4 separate regions of the Homo sapiens genome follow, and all the other regions are linked to region 4. The links come from fine-mapping of genetic effects on gene expression. A gene starts in region 4. Each other region holds a variant in brackets. All regions are shown on one strand. Distances are from middle to middle.

Evidence for each region.
Region 1: its variant is fine-mapped to the expression of LANCL2 in aorta (GTEx, PIP 0.94).
Region 2: its variant is fine-mapped to the expression of LANCL2 in lung (TOPMed, PIP above 0.99).
Region 3: its variant is fine-mapped to the expression of LANCL2 in iPS cells (HipSci, PIP 0.95).

The regions. Positions count from the first base shown.
Region 1 is chr7:55,470,080-55,475,201 of GRCh38, forward strand. It overlaps VOPP1 (VOPP1 WW domain binding protein), which reads right to left. Exons shown (of 5, transcript NM_030796.5): 5 at 534-2,966. The coding sequence ends at 2,776. Among named protein-coding and RNA genes, the nearest start is that of VOPP1, 100 kb to the right of the region's middle. RefSeq lists an enhancer at 2,894-3,560. The variant G/A (reference allele first, on the strand shown) is at 2,935.
Region 2 is chr7:55,476,445-55,481,592 of GRCh38, forward strand. The region is part of intron 4 of VOPP1 (VOPP1 WW domain binding protein); the gene reads right to left. Among named protein-coding and RNA genes, the nearest start is that of VOPP1, 93 kb to the right of the region's middle. RefSeq lists an enhancer at 1,464-2,014. The variant A/G (reference allele first, on the strand shown) is at 2,314.
Region 3 is chr7:55,414,092-55,419,239 of GRCh38, forward strand. The region is part of intron 6 of LANCL2 (LanC like glutathione S-transferase 2); the gene reads left to right. Among named protein-coding and RNA genes, the nearest start is that of LANCL2, 51 kb to the left of the region's middle. The variant A/C (reference allele first, on the strand shown) is at 2,198.
Region 4 is chr7:55,362,587-55,367,717 of GRCh38, forward strand. It overlaps LANCL2 (LanC like glutathione S-transferase 2), which reads left to right and starts at 2,751. Exons shown (of 9, transcript NM_018697.4): 1 at 2,751-3,643. The coding sequence starts at 3,440. RefSeq lists enhancers at 2,676-2,865, 3,486-3,945, 3,976-4,215 and a silencer at 2,936-3,355.

The sequences.
Region 1 (5,122 bases), 110 kb after region 4:
TCTTTGCAAACATTATGTCAATTAGTGATACATCTAAAATACATCTTGAGAGGCTGGGGTAGGAGAATTGCTTGAGGCCAATGGTTTGAGACCAGCCTGGGAAACGCAGTGAGACCCCATCTCTAAAACACAAAATAAAATAAAAAATAAATAATTAAAATGCAGTTTAACTGTAGCAGCTACACCCTTCAGCAGCATCTGTGAGAGAAGTGTTATTTCTGACCAAGCAGAGCTGTGTTTTAAGATGAAGGCTCCCCGACCTGTGAAAAACAGCCCTAGCTCAAGGTTAACTTACAGTATCAACAGTACATTACTTCAGCGATGCTTCTGTCTTCCTACCCACTGGGGACAATTGTCTCCATAGCTTGTATCTTACATTCTCAAATAACATCTAGTTTCTGGTTCCCCTGAGACCAGGTGCATCCTCCACCCACCTCACCCCACTGAACCAAGGATCTGCTGTACACCCTTCCTCATTAGAAACTTCATCTCCACCCTCTTTCCCACTCCCCCAACAAAACAATCAAAGCACATGCCCAAATTTATTTTTATTTTGCACACATAGGAAACAGGATCCTATCAAAAGAGAACAAAAAAGAGAAACGAGCCAATTGTTGCAGAGGAAAAGCATGCACAGATCTGCTTCAAGTTTACTCTGAACCACGGACGCTCCGGGAATTCTACACACCAGGAGCTGTCTCACTCCAGGAAGTGGGCACAACCCACCATCCACACAATGGAAACAAGAATGGCCAGGAAATGTCACCGAAGTGGGACTTCCATATGCAGGATCAGCGTTCACAGTAGCACAATTCTAACCAAGTTCAAGGGAAAACAAACTCTGTCTCACACAAACATGGGAATACAAAATTGTTGAGCCCTAGCCATCACTGTCTCTTAACATAATTTGCTATCAAAAAGACAAACGAAATTTAGTCACGGACTTTTGGGTGCCTATTCAGCTGCACCCGATTCCAGGGGCAGCTTAGTGTGCTTTTTCATTACAAAAAATAAAGACATTAAAAATGCAAAACAAATGACCTGGAGGAAGAGGAGTGTTTGGACCCACGCAGTTGTCTTGGTTGTAAACAGTGAACATTGTGCTTTGTTGTCTCATTTAGATGGAGGCCTGCAGCATGGGAGGTACCACGCTGGCAGTCAGCAGTCACACCAGGGTGGTCAGAGACACTGGTGGCAGCATCTGTGCTTGCAACTGCATTCCCAGGGTGTCTGTTTTGTTCCCAAGTGTCTCCCACAAAATTCCCCAGGAGGTTCTCCGATTAAATGTCCTCAGAGTGAAAAGCATGGACACCAAATCACTCCGTATCCACTTCCATGAGATGTCTTGATGCTCCAGTTCAATGAGTAACAATTTCTCAAGAGGCTCTGATTAGTTCATTAAAAAATAAGCACCCCCACCTCATTCCCCGTGATACAGCACATCTAGTAATCTAGGCGCCTCAGCTAAGCTGCATAGCTCTTAGCACACAGGACAGGTCAGCGTTCACACATCAACACTATAACTATGCGGCGGAACTAGCTCCCCGCTAGCCGTCAACTACTCAGGAGACTACCTGTGAGATCCTGGGGTGAGCTGTGATTCCTATCCAGGAATGTGCATTTCCGACCACTTCTTCTTTATTCTAATTATGACAACATGGTCAGTGCAGTTGAGTCAGTACTTCTCCTGTCTTTTCCCAGCAAGCTCCTCCTCCTTGGAGCCCAGCACACACCCGCTTAGACCCAACACAACCTCAGAGAGAGACGCCTCAGCTGGTCTCTCTCCCTGGAAGAGTCCATGTGACTTCCCAGCCAGATGTGCCCCGTTTTGAAAGCACCCTTCAGAACCCACCACTGGAGCTGCCTGAGGGAAGGAGACCCCCGGGCCTGAGAATGCCCTGGAGAGGCAGTGATGTCCAGGGAAGACACACACCCAGTCTGATTTCAAAGGGCAGGACGCTCTACATGCACTTCCATAAACACACCAAAAAAATGGGTAACAGTCCTTTCTCCAAATCAGACCAAGAGCTCACAAAATGCAATGTCTCAGTTTGGGGCAGGAAGTGATTTCCCATGAATTTAAATAAATTTGCTTAGTGGATGTCAGATCACTGTCAGGCCTCCAAGGCAAGCCTGATTCTAGGCCCCATCCTGCGGTGAGAGCTGCACGTGCTACCCTTCCCTGGCGGTGCAGGAGAAGTCTATCTTTAGGATATGAACAGAGACAGAAACATGACAAGGGGCTTGCTCTCTCCTGAATGTCTCTCCAACAGCTTCTGGAAGAGGAAGGCTGACGAGAGGACAGGCTGGAGCAGATGACCTGCTGGGCTCAGCTCAGTCGGCTGCTGCTTCATCGGCTGAGCCGCCCGGCATGGGGCTTCCTATTAATACCCGGGCAGAAGGATGCTTGCCTGGGATGCTCGGCCTGGCCCCTCTACATGCCACCTGCACCTCCAGCACTGCCTTCTTCCTCTCAGTCTCTCTCCTGTAGATCTGGTCACGCCACCGTAAGGACGTCAGCCCTCGGGGACTGTCACCACACTACCATGTGAGAGCACAGACTGCGTCAGAAACAGAAGCAACAGAGGAGACAAAGTGTGAGTTCATATATTGTACTCCATGGAAAGCCTGAAAGAGAGCTGTGCTTGCTGTGAGGATATCAGAGGAACTGCCCTTAGCAGCCCACGAGACCGTTCCTGGAAGTGAACATCAACGAAGACAGAAAGGCCAGGGAAAGGCCCTCTCCTGTCTCTCCTCTTGCACGTGGGCACCCCACTACTTGGCCTTCACTACCTGTTCGTACGGGGGCGGAGGCGTGTTGCAGTAGGCTGGAGGGGGCGGGCAGGCCACACTCCCCTGGGGTGAGTTGGGTGGGACCTGGAAAGCCATTGCCATGGAATTCCCGACAGGGTTCATCCCCGGTCCTCCTGGGTC[G/A]GTGTAATAGGGCGGCCCCGGCTGCTGGGCTCCTGAAAGACAGACAAACATAGGTGAGCACAGAAGGGAAAGCCCCATCACACCGCAAGTATGTGCAGGCTGCAGGGCCAGCAGACCACGCCCCGTCATTCACTCAGCGACAGTGTATGAAGGACCCAACATGCCCGGTGAGGGGGCACCTGGGCTGTGGTGACAAGCAACACAATAGGCAGGTCCCTGCCCTCTCGGGGCTTTGATTCTACTGGACTACATTCCACGTTACCAGTTCACACATTAGGGTGGAGGAAACTGGGCCACAGTAAGGTGAGGCTGTCTGCGGTGAACTATCGGAAGAGCTGCAAAGACCACCCAGGCTTCGCGACTCAGCCTGGCATTATCGCAGGAGCTCCACAACCCCTCTGGGCACGCCATTGGCTGGTGACCATTTCTGAAGTAAGGTCTCCATTCTCCCTGCCGGGCTAGTGTGCCCTCAGGGCAGGAGTTACTCACAGGCAGGGAGGCCGTGCACCTGGGCACACATAGCCAGGCTGCAGCTGATTGACGCTCCATGGGTCAGGAGCGGAGCCGCAGGCTGACTCCCTAGTGACAAGCTGAGGAGCAGGGCACGGGGGCACCACAGAAGGTGACAGGAGGGTACAGGCTGGACACCCGACCCCAAATCTAGCCCTCACTCTGAGGTGCTGTTTTCAGTGTGCTTACTGTGATCATGCAGATTAACACTATAGAATTATGCATATGTAAATAAAGAATCAGACAAAACCGTGAAAGTGCTGGGTGTTCCCTGGGTATAGCTGATTTTGTGACAGGACTCAGGTGTTTTTGAAGTGAGGCTTCCTTTAGCTCAGGGAGACACTCAAGTGTCAAAGAAGCTGCCCCTGTGTGAATATTGTGTAGGGTTTTTTTTCTTTTTTTGCAATTCTCCCCCTGACACAGTGTGATATAGTTCTGACTCTAGAAACATGCCCATCAAGGTACACAAGATGTCCCAAAGCCCACATAAGTCAGACCATGGGAATCTGCGCATGTGCGGAAGGAGAGCATGTAGAACAGAAGCACAGGCCAGGCCTGCACTGTCTCTCACTGAGCGCTCTCAACTGCCAGGAGGGCACTCAGCACAGATGCCACCCTGTGTGAGAGGCTGCCTCGCCCTGCATCTGTGCCGTCCCACAGACACCACCTGAGTGAGATGCCGTGTGGTCCCACAGATGCCACCTGCGCTGCTCTGATGCATCTCACCCGCTGCCTTGGGTGTGTTCTATTTAGAAGTCGACTTACTGCCATTACCATGAGTTTCGCAAGGGCAGAGATTATGTTTTATTTAGATCTGGATCCTGCTATATGTTATACAATTAAAAAACCAAGGATTTTTAAAAAGAGGGCATTGCAACAGTCTAAGCAAGACATTATGAAGGCTTCTGAATATTAGAGAAAAAATGGAGAAGAGAGAATGAGGCACTGAGGGCTGTCGGCAATGACTGGCCTGGGATTGACTCGATGGGGAGCGCACAGCGTGGGAGACAAGGGCTGAGAAGAAAAGGCCCTAGGTTCTGCTCACAATAAGGGCCCCCCAACAGGCAGGGCAATACAGGAGAACAGGGGCTCTGCAAGAATTAGCGCCTTACCAAGGTCACACTACTGCTACAGCAGCACCAGGACAAGGGCGGGGCAGATGAAAAAGTCCCTGCTGGACTGGAGAGGGCGGAGGCAGCTCTGGAGCTGGAGCCTCCTGTGGGAAGGTGGTGGTGGAAACATGGGCATGTCCAGGAGAAGGCTGCAGGAAGGAGCAGCACTGAGGCCAGGAGAGGAGCATGAAGTGTCTAAGGCTGATGAGAAGGATGCATAGGCAATGGGAAGATGCGGCAGGAGGTGGTGCACCAGGAGCCAGGGCAGCAAGGGGTGGGAGAATTTTCAGGAAGAAGTGATGTTCTCTCCCCAGCTGAAGAGAGATGGAAATAAGCACGGCTGTAGCCTTGGGGTTCCCGTGCTCTTTCTCTACAGTTTCACACCATGGTAGACACAGGTCCCTGCTGCAGTAGGGAGAAACAGTCCAGGGTGTGGGTGAAGACTGTAGGAGGGGACGGGTGGCAGCTGGAAGGCACGCAGGGCAAGAGAAGGTGCCTTTGTAAGGATGGAAACGCTTGCGCATATGGGCAGGGGTAGGGACAGACACAGGACAGAGAGAACTTTC
Region 2 (5,148 bases), 110 kb after region 4:
GGGGCTGGGCCAATCTTTCCTGGGGATGCAAAAGAGTCCGGCAGGCCGCAGAGGGAGGGGTGGAAATGCAGGGAGAAGGAGAGGCAGCTGACAGAGTATGTGGCCCAGGAGGGACAGAGGCCAGGGGCCCAGGGGCCTGACTCCTGACAGCGTTCCAGTTACACCAGGATCCCCACACCATTTTAGTCAGCCCCTCCAAACTCAGGGCACGTGGGTCTCTGGTCTCACCTCTCCTCCTCTCCAGCCATGCCCTGGCTTCCCTGCTCTGTCCCCTCTGGCCCAGCTGCTCCTCCAGCCATGGGCAGGAGCCTCAACACAGGGCACCAGGGGCAGAGCTCGTTCCTGCCACCCAAGCTGTGGCAGGCTTGGCCCTACATTCCTCCCCACCAATCACTCATGGGACGGTGGGCTCTCCAGAGGGACAGGGCCTGCTATGATGGGCTCCTGCCCACTTCAGAGCCTTGTGTCTCACCGCCTGCCCTATTCTCCATCTCCAGCAGTAACCACACTGCCTGGATCCGGTCTGCCCTCTCTGGGCCCTCACTAGATAACATATCCCAGGCTTTCACCATGCAAACCGTGTCTCCTGGAATGCCTGTGACCACCTCATGCCAGGCACCTCCTAGCCTCTGGTCTGGCTAATTGCCATGTATCTTTCAGTCTCAGCTCAGAATCACCAGGCAGCCCCCTCTTGCTGCCTGTCACTGCCTTCCCAGCTGAGCAGGCACCCCTGTCCTCTGGTACCCAGAACAAGGCACGTCCATGAGTATGCAGCAGTTGCCTAGTATGGTATGATTTTCTGAGCCTTCTGAACACGAGGACAGAGCATCACTCACCCTGGTTCCCTGAGAGCCCAGAACGGCACCTTGCATGTGGCAGACGTTCCATAAATACACGGGAGGAGTGACTGAAGGGGGGACGAGTGGCGACTTGGATCTGGACTTTGGCGCTGCCAGATTGTGCTGGGTGTGCATGGGTTTCCTGAGACACACCTGTTTCTGATATGACAGGAGTGACTGGCTGCCCCACTCAGCAAGCCTGTGCCAAGGCCGTGGCTCCTGTCGAGGGGAGGATCCCAACCCCCTGCTGCAGGTGAGGGAGGGGCGGGAGTGTGGTCTTTGTAGAAGAGAGGCAGCCAGGCTATGTTTGCAATGTGGCCACTCACGCTGCAGAACCAGAAACACCAGCACCTGCATCCAGTCTAATCGGTATCTTCGTGTTCATAGACACAGTGATGGATCCTACCAGGAACTGGTGGGACGGGATTGAAATATTTGAACATGGAGATGGAGAGGTATTTGGAATATAAAAGAGAACGGATAGAAAATGAATAAACTGTGTACTTGTCAAGAACATGAACCCTTAGGTTAAAAAATTGGTGACCACGCTGGAGAGGCTACAGTTGAGGTTAAAGGGCAGCAGGGCCGGATGCTGGAGCCTCATGTGAGTAGCTGAGGGACCCCGGCCAGGTGGAGGCAGCGCGGCCGCGGAAGCAGCATGCAGAGGCCGCACCCACCCAGACAGCTGCTCAGCTTCTGCTCATTTGGCTACAACTCCTCACAGGACGCTGGCCATGCTTACCATTCAGGCTCCCACAAAGAAGAGCAACCGAGAGAAGGTGGACCCAGTTCTCACAGAGGCAGAGACTCATTTAGGAAAGAGAAAGCAAGGACACTTCATTCTCTGCATGAAGCCTGCGGACAGAAGACCAGCACGGTCTGGAATGTGCCCACAGACTTCAGAGAGATCACGGCAAAGACATTCCCACAAACCACAGATGATTATATGGCACATGGCTCTGGAATCAAAAGCACCTTAAAGTCATAACCTCAACTCCTTAATCACAAATAATCACAAAGAGAACAAAAATGTGAGTGTCCCAAATGAAGCCCTGTGACTAAAGAGCAAAATTACAAAATGAGATTATTACCAGGAGCAAATACAGAATGAAGTCAGGAAAAAAAAGCCCAAGGGAGCTGCAGCTTGAAGCAATGACTCTAGCCAAAAAAGGGGGCTTTGCATGTGCACAGAGAATAAAGAAGATTAAGAAATAAAACAAATAGCAAAAGAAACTACCTTAAATGGTATTCTCTCCCAAGGAGAATGGTTTGCAAACTGAAAGGGAGAAACAAAAAAATGGGTGAGGGAAAATGAAAGACCAAGATAAATGAGAACTGACCGGATGTTGGGGAGAGCATTCAGATTGCCTGCCTCCAACCAAGTACCTCTCAGTGCAGGAAGCATGGAATAGAACCAGGACCTCAGGGTCCCATGACATGCTAAGTGCATTTTCCTCACAGATTCATGTATCTC[A/G]CATACAGCCTGTCATTCTAGCCACCGAGGAATGCTATGAGATACACACTATTTCAATTTTACAGATTCAAAAGCGGAAGTCCAAATAAATTACACAATGTGCTCAAGGGACTCTCCTTCCAGTGGACACTGTTGCATCTGTGAGGACCCAGGCGGACCTCTCTCAGCCAGGAAGGAGAGTTGGAGGGGGAAGAGCTGAGGGGGGCAGCAGGGGCCCATGGAAGGAGCCCGGCCCGAGGATGCTGCTGAGCCATGCAGTTAAACCATGGCCCTTCCTCTATGTGACTTTCTATCGTAAGAGACAATTCTTTCTTATTTTTGAAGCTGGCTGAATTGAGGTATGTGTTACTTGTAGCCAAAAGCCTTGAACTACCTCTTCCAGAGAACATTTTCTTTTTTTTTTTTTTATTATTATACTTTAAGTTTTAGGGTACATGTGCACAATGTGCAGGTTAGTTACATATGTATACGTGTGCCATGCTGGTGTGCTGCACCCATTAACTCGTCATTTAGCGTTAGGTATATCTCCTAACGCTATCCCTCCCCCATCCCCCCACCCCACAACAGTCCCCAGAATGTGATGTTCCCCTTCCTGTGTCCATGTGTTCCAGAGAACATTTTCACAAACAACAGAGGTGTTGCCAGCTCAGTACTGGCATTTCTGTGTCCTCTGAGCTTTCTAGTTTGGTTTGGTTTGAGGTTGTATCTGTTCATTTTGCTAAACTGTCTCAACTCTTAGAAATATTTCTGAGCTCATTCTCCAGGATTTTTAGGTAAGTACTGATGATAAACTGTTTACAAACAGTAATAGTTTTGTTTCTCCTTCCTGATGGTTGAATATTTTCATTTTAGCCAGAAATTTTAGAGCAATATTAAATATTATTAAATATCAGTTATGATATTAAGCAATCCAATTTTCATGGGAATTATTTTATAGTTTCACCAAATGTGATGTTAGCAAAGAATCTAAAGTGCATACTCAACAATTATTTATGCAACATCTCCCGTTCAAAAGGCATAGCTGGTAACATGGAGCACACAGTGGAAGGCTTGAGCCTGGAACCCAGGAATTTACATGAGGTCTTTATTACATTAATAAAAGGCCTTACATGGCTAGTTTTGAGAGAGTTTTGATAAGGAATATATATCAAATTGTGCTGACAGCCTCTTCAGCACCTACTGAGACAATCATTGCTTTCTGATATAACTTACAATGTTAATTGCGTGCCTAAAATAAAACGATCTTTTGTTAAGAAGATCATGGTTGGTTATGATGGTTTACTATTTTGACACATTGCTTAATTCAGTTTCCTAAATATGATTCGATATAATTTTATTTTGGTGTTTATTCCCAAGTTATACTAACTTTACAACATGAATACGTAGCATTCCTATGATTTGCAGTAATTGATACATTCATTAAAATGAATTGTTTCTTAAAAGTTTCAAAAAAGCCATATGAACTTAAAGACATTCTGGGAGATAATTCTTTGAAAATGTCTTCAAGCTCTTGCTTGCTTTTTGAGTTATTGAAATTTTCAATGTCTTTACGCACTTTGGTATCATAAAGTACTTACGCACTTTGCCATCTTACCAGATTTTCCAATTCATGAATACTTCCTTGTGATTTTCAACTCCTTTGAATCTGTAGTGTTTTAATTTATGCTTTTATTTTTGTGTTCTTCTCCTTTATTGATTAGATTTATCAGGAGGGGAACAAGCAATGTGATTTGCTCTATTGCTTTTTATCAACTGCTAACTTAGATTTATAATTATATTTTTCTGATTTTTACAATTAATTTGTATTTCATTTATAATTTCTCCCATCTCTACTTCCCAGGCTTAATTTTACCCACTCTTTATATATTTCTGTGACTTTATTAATTTCTGAGCCTCTTTTGAGGAGAGCTCAGTTCATTTGCTTTTTCATAAACTTTTAACAGAATAAAGCTATGAATCTATTAATACCTCTAAAAATTGGCTGAACATGTACTGCATATGCTGTTGCATTCCTTTCACTGATGCCTATGTCCATTTGTGTGTTCAACAAAGACTGAATTCTCACTGAGTGCCAGCACTGTTCTGGGCACTGAGGATGTAACAATGACAAAAACTGAAAATCTCAGTTCTCACGTTACTTGCAGTTTAGAGAGACAATGAGCAAGGTAAGAAAAATAGGTTAGTTGGTGATAAGTGCTAAAGATGAAAATAAAGCAGGAAAATTGAAAAATGAAAAGCCAACAGGGGAGGGGGAAGGGCAGTGCCATTCTTCCTTGTGTCTGCAGGCCTCATGAGGAGGTGAAGGACCTCAAGGAAATGGAACTGTTGGGCAGAAGGGGCAGGCAGCAGGTACTGGAGGAGCGTGCCGTGTACCTGGGCGTGTCCATGGAGAAAGAGACTTTTAGGCAGAGGAATGGCTGTCTGGAGGGTCTCAGGACAAGTCACAGGCCAGTGAGTGGCAGCAGGGGAGTGAGCCAGGAGGGGCCACAGGAGAGGCCAGAGCCCGCTGGGCAGCCAGGAGGGGTGCTGAGAGAAGAGAGGGCCTCCTTGGCCTCTCAAAGTGCTTCTGTGGCACAGTGGGCCCATGAGAGTGTTGGGAGCACAAGCCCTGGCTCCTGCTGTGACTCTGGCTGCCTTGCTGGAAGCAAGAGGCAGCAAGAGAACCACCAGGGAGGCTCTCATCAGAGTCTGAATAAAGGGTGGTAGCAGCCAGGGTGGTGTCGAGAGAAAAGGCCAACTGGCCTCAAGGCTCCTGGCTGGAGCCCTGGAAGAACAGAGGTGGGGCCTGGAAAGAGGGCGGAGGAAAGAACCAGCACTGCAGGGTCCTCCACTCCC
Region 3 (5,148 bases), 52 kb after region 4:
AAAGCATATGTAATATGGTCTTAGAATTGGGGGTAAAAATACATCTTCTTCATAGTATAAACTACAGAAAATAAGTGTAGACTAAAGCTCTCTGCCAGCGGAGAAACAGACCCTGCGCCGTGGAGTCTGCACATCTGTTTGCGTCTCTGAGCAGAGGGCGAGGTTTGTGTTTGACCAAGGCAGGGGGTTCAGTGGGGGAGGCAAAACTAGGGAAGTACAGCTCTACACTGTTTTCTCTCAAGTTACAGTTAAGTTGAGAGGGCCTCCATTTATTAAAGCTGTCTCTTAAAATTAGGTAGGAAATGTTCAAGTTTTATGTAATAACAAGCTCTAACATTTTCTTCTCCTGGCATATGAAGTCCTAAGTTGTTCAGGCATGCTTATGAAGGTGTAAAGTGTTCAAGTACTTGAAAAAATATTATTAATTATCCTTTACAAAGAAAACTGTAAGTTCAGTCCAGACTCACAAAATTTATTTTCCCTCCCTGTAGATGCTCATCATGTGTTAGTATTTAGTAGGGTATATACTCTTCTGTGTAGGAACGTGTATTACTTGTTAATTTAAAGTTATGTGGTATTTTAGATGGCCTTAAAATGTAAAGGTTTGGCCAGACACTGTGGCTCACACCTGTAATCCCAGCACTTTGGGAGGCCAAGGCAGGAGGGTTGCTTGAGCCCAGGAGTTGGAGATCAGCCTGGGCAACATGGCAAAACCATGTCTCTACTAAAAAAAAATACAAAAATTATCTGGGTGTGGTGGCACGCACCTGTAGTCCCAGGTACCTAGGAGGCTGAGGTGGAAGGATGGTTTGAGCCTGGGAGGCGGAGGTTGCAGTGAGCTATGATCATGCCACTGCACTCCAGCCTGGGTGACACAGCAAGACCCTACCTCAAAAAAAAAAAAAAAAAAGAAAAGAAAAGAAAAAGGCAAGGTTTTAACAATATTCTACATTGTATTAGGAATTTTATTAATTGTGAATGATTTTCTAACAAATTACATCTGACAAAAAATCATGGGTAATGGTGGCAAATTCTTCCTTCTATTCACGTTTTGAGTTCTAGGGCATTAGGAATTTGTGTGGGTTTAGCCACTGTAAACAAATACATTTGTTAAATGAGATTGTATTTGGAAAGGTAAATGCAATGTCCAAAAAAAGCATATAATACCCCCACCAGGGTGACACGAGTGCAGTCCTTAGATGCTGAACTGAATCTGGCAGCAGCCACAGCATCACTGCTTGTGCCCACACGCCTGCCCTGGGAAGCCCCAGAGAGAACTGCATTGGGAGTGCCCCCTGGTGGCCAACTATTGTATATATGTCAGAAAATGCTTTCATACAAATTCTGTTCCCGAAGCTTGTTTGCAAGTTGATTATTTGAAACATGGAATGTTTTTCTAGGGGTATCAGAATTACTTGAAAAGTTTTTTTAAGCTATACTTTTTTTCCTCCTTACTCAAGATTCTGATACCTTCTTAATTTTAAGCATCACTTAAATAAATGTACCATAGTTTATCATTGTTTTTCTTTCTTTTTTTTGAGACACAGTGTCGCTCTGTCTCCCAGGCTGGAGTGTGCAGTGGCGCAGTTTTGGCTCACTACAACCTTTGCCTCCTGGGTTCAGGTGGTTCTTGTGTGTTAGCCTCCCAAGTAGCTGGGATTACAGGCACACGTCACCATGCCTGGCTAATTTTTTGTATTTTTAGTAGAGACGGGGTTTCACCATGTTGCCCAGGCTAGTCTTGAACTCCTGACCTTAGGTGATCTGCCTGCCTTGGCCTCCAAAACTGCTGGGATTACGGGCATGAGCCACTGTGTCCGGCCAGTTTATCATTGTTTTTCATCGGTTTCCAGGTTTTGGCTATTAGGAACAAGCTGCTATGAACATTCTTGCACAGGTCTGTCTAGAGACACATGTCTTCATTTCTTTTGGGTTAATATCTAGGAGTAGAATTACTGGATCGGAGGGTAGGTGTATGTTTAGTTTTAGAAATTGCCACTTTTTCCACAAGTTCTGGTTGTTCTGCATCTGCCAACACTTGATGTTGAAAGTCTTTTTAATTTTAATTATTTTGGTGGGTATTTCATTGTGGTTTTATTTGTATCTTCCTGATTGACCAGGGTTGATTAATGTTGCATGTGCTCATGGGCCAATTGTGTATCTTCCTTTGTTGACTGTCTCTTCATATCTTCTTCTT[A/C]TTATTATTATTTTTTGAGACAGGGTCTTGCACTGTCACCCAGGCTGGAGTGCAGTGGTGGATCTTGGCTCACTGTAGCCTCGACCTTCAGGGCTCAGGTGATCCTCCCACTTCAACCTTCCAAGTAGCTGGGGACTACAGGCACGTGCCACCACACCTGGCTAAATCTTTTTATTTTTGTAGGGGTCTTGTTTTTTGCCCAGGCTGGTTTCGAACTCGTGGACTCAAGCAATCTTCCTGTCTTGGTCTCCCAAAGTGCTGGAATTATAGGTGTGAGCCACTGTGCCCAGCCTGTCTCTTCGTGTGTTTTACCTACATTGTTTTATTTTATTTTATTTTTGTCTTTTTGCTATTTTTGAAAGAATTCTTTATATGTTCTGGTTAAAGTCCCTCTGTCAGATATATATCGTACAAATAATTTCTCCCTGTCTGTAGTTTGCCTAATCATATTCTTTATGGTATCTTTTGACTAATAGAGTTTTAAATTTTGATAAAATCTATTTTTCAATGTTTTCTTTTTATGATAATTACTGTCTGTGTTTTGTCTAAGAAACCTTATCTACCCTCAGGTTATATAGATAATACTCTCCTTTAATCTTTATTGTTTTAGATTTTACCTTTAGGCCTGTGATTTATCTCAAATTAAGTTTTGTATATTACATGAGGTAACAAACGAGGTGGTTTTTTTTTTTTTTTTTTTTTTTTTTTGGAGACAGAGTCTCACTCTGTCGCCCAGGCTGGAGTGCAGTGGCACGATCTCTGCTCACTACAAGCTCCGCCTCCCAGGTTCACACCATTGTCCTGCTTCAGCCTCCCGAGTAGCTGGGACTACAGGCGCCCGTCACCACGCCTGGCTAATTTTTTGTATTTTTAGTAGAGATGGGGTTTCACCGTGTTAGCCGGGATGGTCTCTATCTCCTAACCTCATGATCTGCCCGCCTCGGCCTCCCAAAGTGCTGGGATTACAGGCGTGAGCCACCGTGCCCAGCCTGAGGTGTTTTTTTTTAACCATAGGGATATCTGATTGTTCCCATACCTTTTGTGGAAAAGACATTTATTTTTCCCATTTGATTGATTTTGGTTCCTCTATCAAAAATCAAATGACCTAATAAGCCTGGGTCTGTTTCTGGACTCTATTCAGTTACTTTGGCCTGTTTACCTACATGATATTACCACGTTGTTTTTCTTATTCTGCATTTATTGTAAGTTTTGAGATCAGGTAACTTAAGACCTCACTTTGTTCTTTTTCAGAATCACTTTGAATATTCCAAGTCCTTTGTATTTTCATATAAGTTTTAGAGTCCATTTGTCAGCTTCTAAAAATGGAGCCTATTGGAGTTATGAGTCAGAGTGCATTGAATCATTGAATCTCTAGATCCACTTGGGTAGAACTAACTGACATCTTTTTTTTTGAGATGGAGTCTTGCTTGGTCGCCCAGGCTGGAGTAGGTGTGATCTTGGCTCACTGCAACCTCCGCCTCCCAGGTTCAAGCAATTCTCCTGCCTCAGCCTCCTGAGTAGCTGGGATTACAGGTGCCCACCACCATACCCGGCTAGTTTTTGTATTTTTAGTAGAGACGGGGGTTTCACCATGTTCGCCAGGCTGGTCTCAAACTCCTGAGCTCAAGTGATCTGCCCGCCTTGGCCTCCCAAAGTGCTAGGATTACAGGCATGAGCCACTGTGCCTGGCCAGAACTGACATCTTAATAATGTTGAGTCCTTCTGCTCGCAAATGTGGTATATCTCTCCATTTATATTTTCTTTAATTTCTGTCAATAGTGCTTTATAGTTTTTGCTCTACAGGTCTTAACACATCTTCTGTTAAATTTATTCCTAGATATGTTATTTATTTACATTTTCCAATTATGTATTGCCAGTATATAGAAATACAATTGCGTTTTTTTTTTTGGAGACATAGAGTCTCACTCTGTTACCCAGGCTGAAGTGCAGTGGTGTGATCACGGCTCACTGCAGCCTCTACCTCCCCAGGCTCAAGATATCCTCCTGACTTAGCTGAGTAGCTGGGATTACAGGTGTGCACCACCATGCCTGGCTAATTTTTGTATTTTTTTGTAGAGATGGGGTTTCGCCATATTGACCAGGCTGGTCTCAAACTCCCAAGTTCAAGGGTTCTACCCACCTCGGCCTCCCAAAGTGCTGGGATTACAGGCTTGAGCCACTGTAACTGGCCACAGCTGCTTTTTGTATATTGACTTTATATTCTGTGCTAAATTCACGTATCAGTTCTGGTAGCTTTTTATACATTACTTAGGATTTTCTGTGTACACATATTGTATCTGTGAGTTTTCTTCTTCCTTTCCAACCTCTGTGCCTTTTATTTCCTTTACCTCTTTTATTACATTGGTTAGGAGCTATAGTATAATATTGAATAGAAGTGGTCAGAGTGGACATCTTTGCTTTATTCACAATCATAGAAAAAAATATTAAATATTTCCCCATCAAATATACTTTTAACTGTTTTTCTTAGATGGCTTTTATCAGATTGAAGAAGTTTCCTTTTATTACTGGTTATCATGAAGGGATGTTGAATTTTGTCATTTTTTTTTCCTGGATTTATTCAAACGCTCCTATGGTTTTCCTCTTTTGTTTTATTAATATGGTGATTTTACATTGATTGGTTTTTAAAAGTTGAGTCAACCTTGCATTCCTAGTATAAACCTCACTTGGGCATGATTTTTATCCTTTTCTTTTTATTAATATTGCTACATTTGGTCTGCTAATATTTTGTTAAAGATTTTTATGTTTCTTAGTACATATTTTCTTTTTCTATAAAATCTTTGTTTTTATTAGGAATCAGGTATCAGGATTATGCTGGTCACGTACATGAGTTGGAAAGTGTTTTCTCTTATTTTCAGAAAGATTTTGTGTACAATTGGTGTTATTACTTGCTTAAATGTTTGTGGGAAAATTTTTTATTATGAATTCAATTT
Region 4 (5,131 bases):
ATAGTGAGGGATAGGGAACCTGGTCAAATAATGGGGGTGATCACATATTAGGGGGTGGTTCTTCCTAAAGTGACTTAGCAAGGCTGTTTGCTAAAACTGGATTTTATAAGGAAGTGTGCAGATGGGCCTTGGAGGAGATTCAGGAACCTGACTAGTTTGGTAGAACAAAGAATCTCTGTCACTAGGTCACAGTCCGGGAGGGCAGGAAGGGGAACTGTGGCAGGGCCAGCTCACCACACTGGGGCATCTGGTCACCTGGGCGGGGTGGGGGAGAGGGGGGCTCACTGCCTGTTTTCCGTGTTGAGGCTGCAGGGAAGCGTGAAGTTTTGAAATACATAATACAGGCCCCACGTGGTTCTGACCCAGCACCACGCAGTTCTCAGAACCACACATTCTAGCCCTGCAAGCACCTGAGGCTTGGTTCCCGGGCCAGAGGCTGGTACCTGACTCTGGGGTAAAGAGGAGAGCCGGGGCTGTCTGCGGGGCCTCAGGGCTCGGCGATGGCTGAACCCCACAGTGAGAGCCCTCGTGCCCCAGGTTTTCCATCGTCTTCCTCTCACCTTTGGGGCGCTCCAGATAAGAAGTGGCGTTTCTCAGGGAGGCGCCCCCACCTCAGCTCCTCCTGTCTCAGGCCCCACTTGGTGGGGAGCCGCCGCAGGCGGGGAGCCCGGGCTTGCCCCTGCGGGCAGTCACCGCTGCCCTGTGCCCCGAAACCACCCTCCCCGCCCCCCAGTGACCTCCCACCTCCGGGGTTCCTCTCCGCCTTGCTGCCTGCTTTGGCTTTAGAAGGGAGCTCAAGCTCAGCGGCTTTTGGGGCAGCCACGTTAGGTGCTGGGGAATGGAAGAGGATGACACTGCCTATTTTGACTCAGATCTTCAAGGATGAGCACACCCTCCCCTGGTAGCAACTTCTGCACCCGCCGGCCACCCCGTAGGGCCCTGCCCCGCACCGCACCCGGTGGCCTCCCCGGAGGGCCGTGACCCAAGCACCGCACCCGGCGGCTTCCCCAGGTGCTGCTCCGCCCAGTGCCCCCCCAGATCTCAACGTGGTGCCACAATGCCGCCCTCTCGCACATCGTGTCCTTGGACTATGTCTTCCTTTGAAAGGTCAGTTGCCAGGGGCCCTCACGACTCCTTGGGTGTGCTTTGGGCCGGCATGTATGTCCTCTTGCCCTTCTCTTACACAGAAGAGTGGGGAGGGTGTCCTAAGAATTTGGCTTGTCCTAAGGAAAATAAAGTTGTAATTTCAAGGCACTGACCAAGGTCTCTGTACTACTCAAGAGCTCAAGAGTGGCCACGGGGGAAGATAGCCCTGGGTGTAAAAGGGCCGCAGAAGGGAATCCCCTGTGCTCTGCATTAAAAAACCCCCAGGGGACAGGAGGCTGAAGAAAGGGAACCTACCACTTCTCCATAAAATAGTGTCAGTGAGCTGTCCAGGAGGGCAGGGGATCTGCCGATAAGAGAGCATTTAGGAAAATATGCCGACTCCTTAAATTGGGTTTCGATTTTTCAGCTTTTGAAAATATTGGTTTTCTTTAGGACAGGTTTCTGTACTTGCCAACAGTTGCCAGTTATCCACCAGCAGACTGCAGGAAGAAGAGACAATCTTCACCTCCCTCCTGGGTAGGGAGAGCTGAGAATTCACTAGGCTTAGCCTAACAAAGCCCGCAGTGGACGTTTCTGCTGTACCTGTCCAAGGCGTGATAGTTCCCCAGACTTTGGGGAATATCACCGTGGGTTATTTTGTCTAGTTAAGTCCCTGTGGTGGGATAAGGATGGCTCCTAGAGCATGTCGGCATCAGTAGTTCCTGGAGTGGATTTTCCTACACCGTCTAGGTATGAAAATTTGGTGGGAGAAAAGACCCCAGGAAAGGGGAAAGCAGGAAAGTGGAGCTAAGGGATGCTGCTATAACACTCATCCTGTTGTATCTGTTCTGTTTCCCTGAACTTTGAAGATAGTTATGCTGAGTACCCCCTTTAAAATGATTTTCTTCTACACTGTACCTTCCCATGGTCATGTTCTTGGTGGGGTGTGTTTCACATGTCCAGCCCTGTGGGGTTGGGGGGACACTAGAAGAGGTAGTGGGAAGCCAGACTTTCCCACATCATTCCACCGAGGCCACGGAGGCAGGAGGAACCGAGCCTTCCCTGTGCTCGGCACTGTGTTTTTCTTCATCATGTCACTTTTTACATTAACGTGTATTTTTGCTTGCTTCCAGAAAAGCACCTACATCAGCTATGCTGTAATCCTTGCTTTTCTCACCCAATAACTGGGAATCCCCAGAGAGCCAAAACTATCTTTTTAATCTCTTATTTCTTCATCACCTAGTACCATTTGGTGCTCAATCAACGTTTACTGAGCGGAAGAAAACGGAAATAAGACATTTTCCTCAAGGAGCAGAAATCATTACACGTATTTGGTCCAAACAAATAAAAATAAAGAGAACCAATGAAGACTGAAGTAAACCACATCACGATTACATAAATGTAAAGATCTGGTTGCTTGTGTCCTTTTTATAATACATACTATGATCTTTGCCAATTAACACTGGAGGACTCTTTCTGGTCGATAAAATGTTTGGATAATTAAGTATGCTTTCATTTTATGTCCCGGTATCAAAGATGTCCATTTATTCAAAACAAAGGGAGTGAACATAAAACATAAAAAGAAAAAAAAAAAGGCCTGTGGCTCCTCCTCCCAGACACCCCCCTCCAACAGTGATGAATAGGAGGGACTGTCTCCCTCCCCCATCCCTCGGAGACTAGCCTTGCAGTGTTTTAGACTGTTTTGAAATTCTGTTCTTTAGAAGAGATTTTTTTTTTCTTCTTAATATCAAACAAAGAACTGCTGCTATTCCTTTGGGCTGGCGCAGCAGGGGCCGGTGAAATGCAGGCTGACGACGGCGCGCCAGGGGCTGAGCTCGCCCCGGTCGGCGACGCGCACACACCTTGAGTGACAGCGACCTCTTCTCTACAGGTTTTCCCCGCGGGAGCGTGGCCCTAGCGGGCGTTCGGTTTTCTTTGGAAATCGCGGAGGGGGCTGGCCGGGCGCAGCGATCCCCACCCCGGGACTCCAGCCCCGGCCGTGCGCGTCGCCGCGGACGGGCTCTGCGGGCCACGGGGAAGGTGCGAGGAGGCGCGAGCAGGCTGTGAGCCGCTGGGCGCTCCCGCGAGCCCGCTCCTCTCCGTCGGGAGCAGGGCAAAGGCGCCAGGAACAGGGCAGAGGCACAGCGCCCACCGCCTCTGCGGCCGCCTGATGTGCGAGCAGCCCGCGACGAGGCAGTGCACGCTCAGACGCCCCGCTCCTCCCGCCAGCGCGCGGCCTCGCTCCTCCTAGAGGACGCTCTCTGCGCGGGCCCTCGGAGGAGGCGGCGGCGGGGCGAGCTGCAGCGCCGGGACAGGAGGTTTGTCCCCGCCCGCGCGCCGTACCGCGGCGGAGATGGGCGAGACCATGTCAAAGAGGCTGAAGCTCCACCTGGGAGGGGAGGCAGAAATGGAGGAACGGGCGTTCGTCAACCCCTTCCCGGACTACGAGGCCGCCGCCGGGGCGCTGCTCGCCTCCGGAGCGGCCGAAGAGACAGGCTGTGTTCGTCCCCCGGCGACCACGGATGAGCCCGGCCTCCCTTTTCATCAGGACGGGAAGGTGAGTCGGCGGCCTGGCCGCAGAGGCGCCGGAGGGGGAGCGCGGCGGTGGTAGCGTCCACCTTCCGCCAGGCGTGACGTCACAGGCGCGCGCCGGGCTTGGGAGGGCGCGGGATGATAGCGCCTAGCACCTGTCTCCGGGCCTTCCCGATGAGCCGCGCTTAGGGTCCGTGGGCTTCAGCTGCATGAACCACGTTCCAGCAGTTCGGCCCTCCTGGCCCCAACGCGCCTTTGAAATACGCGGACAGTGCGCTTTCCTTCTTGGCCCGAGCGGCGCTTCGCAATGCGGGCTTGTGCACTCGTGAGGCCCGCGGACACCTCCCGCCCCTGCGCGGCGGAGCGCTCCGCCGGCTACCTGCTCCTCAGAAGTGGCCTGGAGGCTGGATTTCCTTGGCCATATCTGGTCCCTGGGCTCTCGCCGACAAAGAAGCATTGTCCGTACTGTCTGTGTGCCCAGAAATGGGAAGCGGGTGTAAGGGGAGGCCAAACTTGACTTTCTTAGTGTCGCGAGGTGGGTCAGAGCGTTACATTGACATAAAACAGATTAACAACAGAAAAACATACATCTCTTGAATATGTTTTACGTGAAAAAGACACAAAGAAATGGCAAAACCCAAATACTTTTGTGCTAGGCAGAACCAAGAGCGGCAGCTGTGGGAGAGTAAAGTGTGCGGGGAGGCTAATGGAAGATGGAACTGCTTGAACCACGTCTAGGTAGAAATCTCCGCCTTGCTCGGCTCTGGTGCCGAGTGTTTCTTTGTTCCTGGTGTAGGGAGGCCATGTTTTACAGGAGTTTTCTCTTGTTTCATGAAGAAAAGGGGGCAGTTTAGAGCACTCTTCTGTTTTTCAAGTGCTTTTAGCTTAAAATAATCCTTATGCCAGAGACATATTTTTGGGATGGCATACCCTGTCACCCTTCACGGGCTATCTGAACAGAATCTAACGTGGGAGGCAAAAAGTGGGAATAAAACAGAAGATTGAATATCAGCACAACTGTTTTCATGCTTGGTAAAACCGTACCTTTACCAGGTTTTCTTTTTCCACTGAGGTACGTGTTCCAATGGCCACTTCACCTCCTTGGATCTCCATGTATTTCATATTTGGCTAAAACTAAGAAGGTAATTTTGAAAGAGCCATTGGTCTGAATATGGAATCTAAGGCAAGTGACTTCTGTAAACCTCTCTCTTCTTGAATGTGGTTAAAAACTCGAAACAGGCCGGGCGCGGTGGCTCACGCCAGTAATCCCAGCACTTTGGGAGGCCGAAGCGGGCTGATTGCTTGAGCCCAGCAGTTCGAGACCAGCCTGGCCAACATGGCAAAACACCGTCTCTACAAAAGAAAAATACAAAAATTAGCCGAGCGTGGTGGTGGACGCCTGTTCAGCTACTCAGGAGGCCGAGGTATGAGAATCGCTTGAGCCTCGGAGGTCGAGGTTGCAGTGAGTGGAGATTGCGCCATTGCACTCCAGCCTGGGCGACAGAGCTAGACG